2 linked regions of the Homo sapiens genome follow. The protein of the gene in region 1 interacts with the protein of each later gene in a pairwise test. Each region holds a gene or a part of one and is shown on either strand. Other genes may lie near its edges.

The links. Proteins that work in one complex are often made in the same cells at the same time.
Region 2: the proteins of PPM1K (region 1) and AATK interact in a two-hybrid assay, tested with the Homo sapiens proteins (one study listed by BioGRID and IntAct).

Annotation. Positions count from the first base shown.
Region 1 is NC_000004.12:88,271,062-88,274,561, reverse strand, and holds part of PPM1K (protein phosphatase Mn(2+)-dependent 1K), read left to right. Parts: intron 1-107; coding exon of another isoform or gene 108-136; intron 137-3,274; coding exon of another isoform or gene 3,275-3,467; intron 3,468-3,500. UniProt on the Homo sapiens protein: Serine/threonine-protein phosphatase component of macronutrients metabolism.
Region 2 is NC_000017.11:81,156,222-81,159,721, reverse strand, and holds part of AATK (serine/threonine-protein kinase LMTK1), read left to right. Parts: intron 1-3,500. UniProt on the Homo sapiens protein: May be involved in neuronal differentiation.

The DNA.
Region 1 (3,500 bases):
CTCCAGTTTCTTTCATCTTTTCTCTTTTAGTATTAACCCCTTTCCCCTCTTCTTGAACCCTTCCTGTGAGGTGAAGGACTGTGGCTTATTCATTTTTGAATCTCCAGTGTGCAGCACCCTGCATAGAACCTGGCAGGTACTCAATAATTATTTGGATTGAACTGAGATCTCCACGCTGACTCTTTCTCACTGAAGTTACTGTAATTTTTTCTTTGATTATCATATAGCTGATTTAATCAAATTATTATAAAATGTTTGCATTTTAATGAGCTGTCACTCCTGGGTGGATTTGAATTTTAGTTAGCAGACACCTGAAAAAGGCTTAAACCATAGAAGTGAATTACTAATGGTGAGATTTTAGGTATAAAAGAGAGGCGTGCCGCTCAGTCCTACTGAAGCAGCATTGCTCGTCTGGCGTAATACTTGAGTTTCATTGTCTCATACCAAGGAAATCAAGGACGAGGACACACAAGGAGTGAGGTTAGGAGTGGAGACTTAATAGGTGAAAGAAAGAGAAAAGCTCTCTCCTGCAAAAAGAGGGGTCCCAAACAGCTTTCTAGTCCATGGTGAAGTGCAGGAGGCTTTATGGATGAACTTGAGGAGGCAGTGTCTGATTTACATAGGGCATGAAAGATTGGTTGGACCAGATGTGCCATTTGCATAGCACACGAAAAACTGATTAGGCCTAGGTGTGCAATTTGCAGAGCATTCAAGAATCTGGCCACCCCCACCCTAATCTTTTATTATGCAGATGGGTTCTCTACCTGGCCAGCGCCATGTTGCCCATTTCTTTACACATGGTGACAAAGAAAAGGGAAGATGGAACATATTGAACATGCTTGGCCCCAGGTAGCCCTTTTCTTTTTCTTTTTTTTTTTTTTTGAGACAGTTTTGCTCTAGTCTCCCAGGCTAGAGTGCAATGGTGCAATTTCAGCTCACTGCAACCTCCACCTCCCAGGTTCAAGTGATTCCCCTGCCTCAGCCTCCCAAGTACCTGGGATTATAGGCGCCTGCCACCATGCCTACCTAATTTTTGTATTTTTAGTAGAGGCGGGGTTTTGCCATGTTGGTCAGGCTGGTCTCTAACTCCCGACCTTGGGTGATCTGTCCGCCTTGGCCTCCCAAAGTGCTGGGATTACAGGCGTGAGCCATTGTGCCCAGCCCAGGTAGTACTTTTCTATTGGCACAGCTGCTGGCATTCACCTGTGCAAGCTTCCAGCTTGCTTATTTATGTTTGCAGCTCAATTTTTCAGGTTGCTCTTTGTTAGAAAAGAAATGGTTTGGAGGCTGCTTTTTGTTAAAAGGGAAGCCTTGCCACGGACTCCTTTACCCTCACTATGTGCCTACATAATTTATTTCTAGCTCCTGTATCAATACCATATTAACTTTCTTAAGTGAAATTAAAACATTCTTATCTCCTCTCAACTTCAGTTCCAAAGCTGTTACAGCTACATAAAGAACTTCAAATTATCTTACTAACATTTAAAATATTTACTGTTGAATGGCATTGCTGTTGCCTGAGCAAGTTCACACTCAAGTTACACTTAGTGAGAGCTCTTTTCTGCCCGGCATGTGTGAGTTCAGCGTGGGCAAGAGACTTTTATGTGCATTCAGTCCTTTCAGAAATGAGACGATGCCAACCACAGACGCAGCATGTCCTGGATGACTGATCTGTAAAATATAATAAAAGCTTATTGTTTGAGTAGAAAATAAAATAAAATAATTTACTGTTGTAGCTGGGGATATTTTGAAAAGAATAAAATCAAAATGCCACTTATCAAGAAATGGCAAGAACAAGATTCCCTTGCCCTTAAGAAATTGTCAGCTATTTTTATTGCTTTTTTGTTAATGCATTTTCAACCTGTCCTTAGTTATCAGTAGCAAATTTCATCACCATCTTTTAATTTTTTTATTCAATTTATACCAGTAATGTCTACTTTTACAATTAATAAAAGCAGCCAGTAAATCCGGATGATATCCCACCAGTCCGTTGTTTATAAAGAGATAGCCACTTAGAACAAACTAGATGGTAGAAAATTAGGTTATAATTCTATATTTCCTATAAGCTCTTCAGAGTGTTTCCAGATTGCTTAAACTTTGAAAGCAACAAAGCTCCGAAAGGGACAAATGGAACAAAAAGAGAAGACTTGCTCAGACATTCAGAGTGGGGGACATTGATGGCATTATGAGTCTCACCAGAAACTTTTATGTTCTTCATATCCTGTGACCTCTTTATGGAAGAATTAAACTACAAAAGAACCAGGGCTGTAAACACAGCATTTTTGAATCCCCTATGCCGGGACAGCCAAAAGAAAAAAAAAGAGAGCATTGATGAGATGTTCTTACCGTGCTGCTACTGCTTCAGCTCATTACTTTGATTTTGGTGTTCATGAGTCATGAGTCTAGAACACCCATTTTTAATAAATATTGAAACTGTATTGGTTTATACATAGTATTATTTACACAATTGAGTAATTACTAGGGGTCATTATACTTTGAAAAGTATAGCTTTTGCTCTTTATGTTGGCATTCACAATCTTGATCATTTTTCTTTTGATGTGTCGGCCTGCAACACTGGGGGAAAGAGAGAGCTGCAGAAATACCCATTTTGTGAATTATACAAAATTATAAACATGCGTCTCGCTAGCCTTTATTTAAGCAATGAATTTAAATTAATCATTCTACTCAAAAATGCCTTATAGGTACTAAGTCTCTGCATTAAGCACCATTAACAAATGCATTACTCTATGTATCTTGTATAGCGGGTGCTTTGATTCCTTCTTGATATATATTTAAGTCCCAGTAATTTGGTGGTATACTGTAGTTTACATCCTGCTTGTCAGATACAAATTCTTCCATGCTGTAACTGTAGATTTACCTTTCTATTCTTGAGACAATTCTGATATTGCTACCAAACAAATTTACAGTGCATTTTTTGTAACTCAGTAAAGGTAGTGATTTACTGTGTTTAAGACCAATTATTTCAGTGAATGTGTATATGCGTGAGTGTTTTTGTGAGTGTGTTAAATGTAGGTCTGTGTCACCATTTATGTGTCTTGGTACAGATACTTTTTTATATAGTTTTTTCAACCTTAGAAACCACAAAATTAAGAAAGAAGTGTTACCCTGTGATGAAAAAATAGGCTCAACTACAAAATACCATCAACTGGAACAAACTGAGTTTTGGAATAATTGATTTGGCATCTCCTGGAATATTATATAATTTGCTAGTTAAATTTTCACCAAAATAAAAAACCCTTCCCTTATTTTGCAGCTCTTTCTCTGCTCTCCCCTGTGTTGCAGGTTTGTAATGTTTGAGCACAATTCCTGGGTGAAATTCGTATTTGCCTCTGTGCGTGTTATTTGTGGCAGAGAACTGTGCCTGGTCAGCAGCTCTAGACCTGGAGCCCGTGGACACTATATGCGGGGCTTCAGTGGAAAGAGAGATCTGCTTAATTTTGTCCCAGGTGAAGGAGTCCAGCGGTTCCTATCCTGGACTA
Region 2 (3,500 bases), on another chromosome or scaffold:
CCTCGGTGTGAGGATCCTCCGACGAGGCCCTGGTGCTCGGTGGGGCCCCTCTGGCTTCCCTTCTGCTCTGCTTCTGGGAATTCTTAGTGACTCTGAACAAGGGGCCTTGGGTTCCCTTGGTACTTGGTCCTGCGGATTCTGCAGCCGGTGGGGCTTGCTTAGGGTTTGGGCTCCGCTGTGAGGCCCACGTGGAATTTCCTCGAACCCCCTGCGAAAAAGGCGTGTGGCTTCCTAGTGACCACGGCACACACAAGTGCGCTCTGACCTCCGGGGTGCGGGTCCGGGGCTTCCCCGCATTGGATTTACCCGCGCGGCAGCACGCCCAGCCCCCGAGAGTCCCCGCCACTGCCCCCAGGACTGCTACCTGGCCGGTCACTCGCAGGCCGCCGGCGCCCTCCCAGCTGCCCCATGTTGGGGATCTCGCTCGCTCTCTGTGAATGATGCTCAGTTGTGGGCTGTCCCGTGGGCTGCTATCGTGGACGCTGGAGTGAGGGCCCCTTTACTGAGAGGTAACTCACATACCAAGGACCCACCTGTGTCAAATGAGCAGCTGGGGCTTTCCTGCATTCCCAAGAGTGCAGCCATGGCACGGCTAGCTGTGGAGCATCCCTGCCCCTGACAGAAGCCCCATGCCCGAGGGCATCACTCCCCATCCCCTGCCCCCAGCCCTGGCAGCCACCGATCTGTCTCGGTCTCTGGGCCCCTGGCCTGGACGTCTGTCTCATAAGCAGGGTCCTGTGGCCTTGTCCTCTTTGGGCCCTGAGGTTTTCGCTGTGTGTATAGCGGCCCCAGGGATCAGGGGTGCTGGTGTGTGACTGTGGGGCACTGTCCAGGGAGCTTCCAGGAGGTGGTGCCATTTTGCCCCCATCCCCATGGACGAACGCCTCCATGGCTTCCCCTCCCGCCAGTGCTGGCTGCTGTTTTTATAACGCCCGGGCTCGTGAGCATGTGGGGGCTGCCCATGGTGGTCTTGTCTGCCTTTCTGTGGCGAAAGATGTCAGGAGCCTTTCCAGGTCCTGCCCAGCTCTTCTGAGCCCCTCAAGCGAGTGCCCATTGGAGGTATTTTTTGGTGGTTTGTACCTGGTGTCGGGCAGCCCTGGCCAGCTGGCCTGTGGGAGCCAGGCTCGGGGCAGTGGGCAGGTCCTGGACACAAGGCCTCAGGTCTGTGCGCAGTGAGCAGGTGGCCTGCTGCTTCACTTCCCGTGACCCTGTGCAGGGCTGAGCACCAGCAGCTTCCACCCTGAAATGGGCCGAGGTGAGAGCACTTGCGGCAGGAGCCGGCACACGCCCCGCTTTCCTTCCCAGGGAGCTGGGTGCAGACACTGACCAGCACACCGCCAGGCTCAGGCACCTTCTCTCCCTGGGAAGCTGCCTGGAATCTCTGTGGCCCAGAGGCAGGTGTCCCTGAAAGCAGCTCCTGGCCCCAGGGATGAATGACGGGGAGGACGGACCCTGCTCGGACCCTGGCTCTGGAGGCTGGGCCCCGCCCTGCTCTCTGCCGCGGGGTCTGGCGAGATGCTTGGCTGCTGCTGGAGCCTGAACTAGCGCGTCAGACTGTTTTATTTTTCCTTCTGTGACGGGCGGCCCTGCAAGTCTTGTCTAGAAATACCCGTGGCCGGCATGCATCCGCGACGCCCGGCCGCCCTGGCCATGGACCTGCCCGTTTCCTCCTTGGCAAGCCTGAGCCCAGCAGCCCCCTGCTGCTGCCCAGCCAGCACTGAGGGAGGGACTCAGTCCGTGCAGGTCTGTAGGGGGCCAGCTGGATGCCCGGCTGTGTCAGGGCCGGGGTCCTGAGACGCACAGGAGGGTAGGCCCCCACGAAGAGCGGGACCGAGGGCCAAGGTGTTGGGGGACAGTGTGCGTCGAGCAGAGACAGGCCAGGAGCGAAGAGATGGGGGCTGTGGGACCTTAGCTGGAGCTGCCTGCCCCTTGGAGGCTTCTCCACTGTCAGGGATCAGCCTCCTGGGGAACCGGGGGCATTCCAGGTGCCCTTCCCACCCTTGGACCAGCCTTGGGGTAGGCCCTGGGGCATCTGATGCTGATGCAGGCTGGGCCTGGGCTGTGTGTTGTGTCAACAGAGGGGACATTCCTTGTGAGTGTCCAGCTGGTGGAACTCACTTCCGTCCCTGGGCTGGCCTGGGCTGGGCACCCATGTTTGATTGCAGGGTTGGCTGTCGAGGGGCAGGAGAGGCGGACTTAGAGATGCTGGGGTGGTAACCCCCGGGAACTGTGCGGGGGTTCCCTGCAGCAGAGAGTAGGGCTGGTCCTAGCACTGGGGGAGGGCCGGATGCCCACCTTGGGGCTGCCAGCGTGTGCGGCAGGCATGTGCGTGGAGGGGTACGTGTGCGTCTATGAGCAAGTGCAGCCCCAGGTTGGAGGCGAGCGTGTGCATGGGCTGGTGCGGTGCCCGCGGTGTCGGATGGACCCGGCCCGGGCCCGTGGACCTTGCCATGTCCTGGGCTTGTCCCGGAAGCTTACATTTTATGTGGCCTCTCCTAAAAATAACCGTGGCTGGCCTGCATCCTCCTTATCCGTGGACATTCGGGCTCCCCTCTCTTGGCGGGGGCGGTGTCTTGTGACTTACAGCCCCTGCCCTGTCCTCACCTGCCACCCAGAATCCCACGCGGCAGATGGTGCCCACATCTGTCTGGTCTCGGGAGTGACTGTGGGGATGGTTCAGGGCTGGGCACGATGCCGCCACCAGGGCCTGTGGGGGCACCGTTGCTGTCCCAGAGGCTCCTCCTGCCCTCTCTCCCCTGTGTCGGGAGGCCTGTGGGGTCTTGCCGTACCCCGCCCAGGGCCCTGCTTCTGAGTTGGGGAGGGGGTCCTCAGTTTCGTGCCTGACTGGCGATCAGGGCCGAGGAGGGGTCTGCTGGACTGGGCTCTCTGTAGCAGGAGCTGATTGAATCCCAAAAGACACAATCCCAAGTGCCATCATCCTGAGTGTGGAAATCCCAAAAGGTCAAAATTCCAAAAACCGAATTCAGGAAAAAAATGATTTAAAAGATTCTTTAGAAGACATTTAGTCTGGGCGCGGTGGCTCACACCTGTAATCCCAGCACTTTGGGAGGCCAAGGCAGGCGGATCACCAGGTCAGGAGTTTGAGACCAGCCTGGCCAACATAGTGAAACCCTGTTTCTACTAAAAATACAAAAAATTAGGCGGGTGTGGTGGCTGGCGCCTGTAGTCCCAGCTCCTCGGGAGGCTGAGGCAGGAGAATGGCATGAACCCGGGAGGCGGAGCTTGCAGTGAGCCGAGAAGCACCACTGCACTCCAGCCTGGGCGACAGAGCAAGACTCTGTCTCAAAAACAAAACAAAACAAAAAACATTTATTTGCATTTGAAAAGGGATTTATTTGAAAAACATAAAAACTCAATAAAAATAAAAACTTCAGAGGCCACTTCACACAATAACACAGGCCATAGTAACATACATTGTAACATAGTAACATACATTGTAACATGGTAACATACATTGTAACATAGTAACATACATTGTA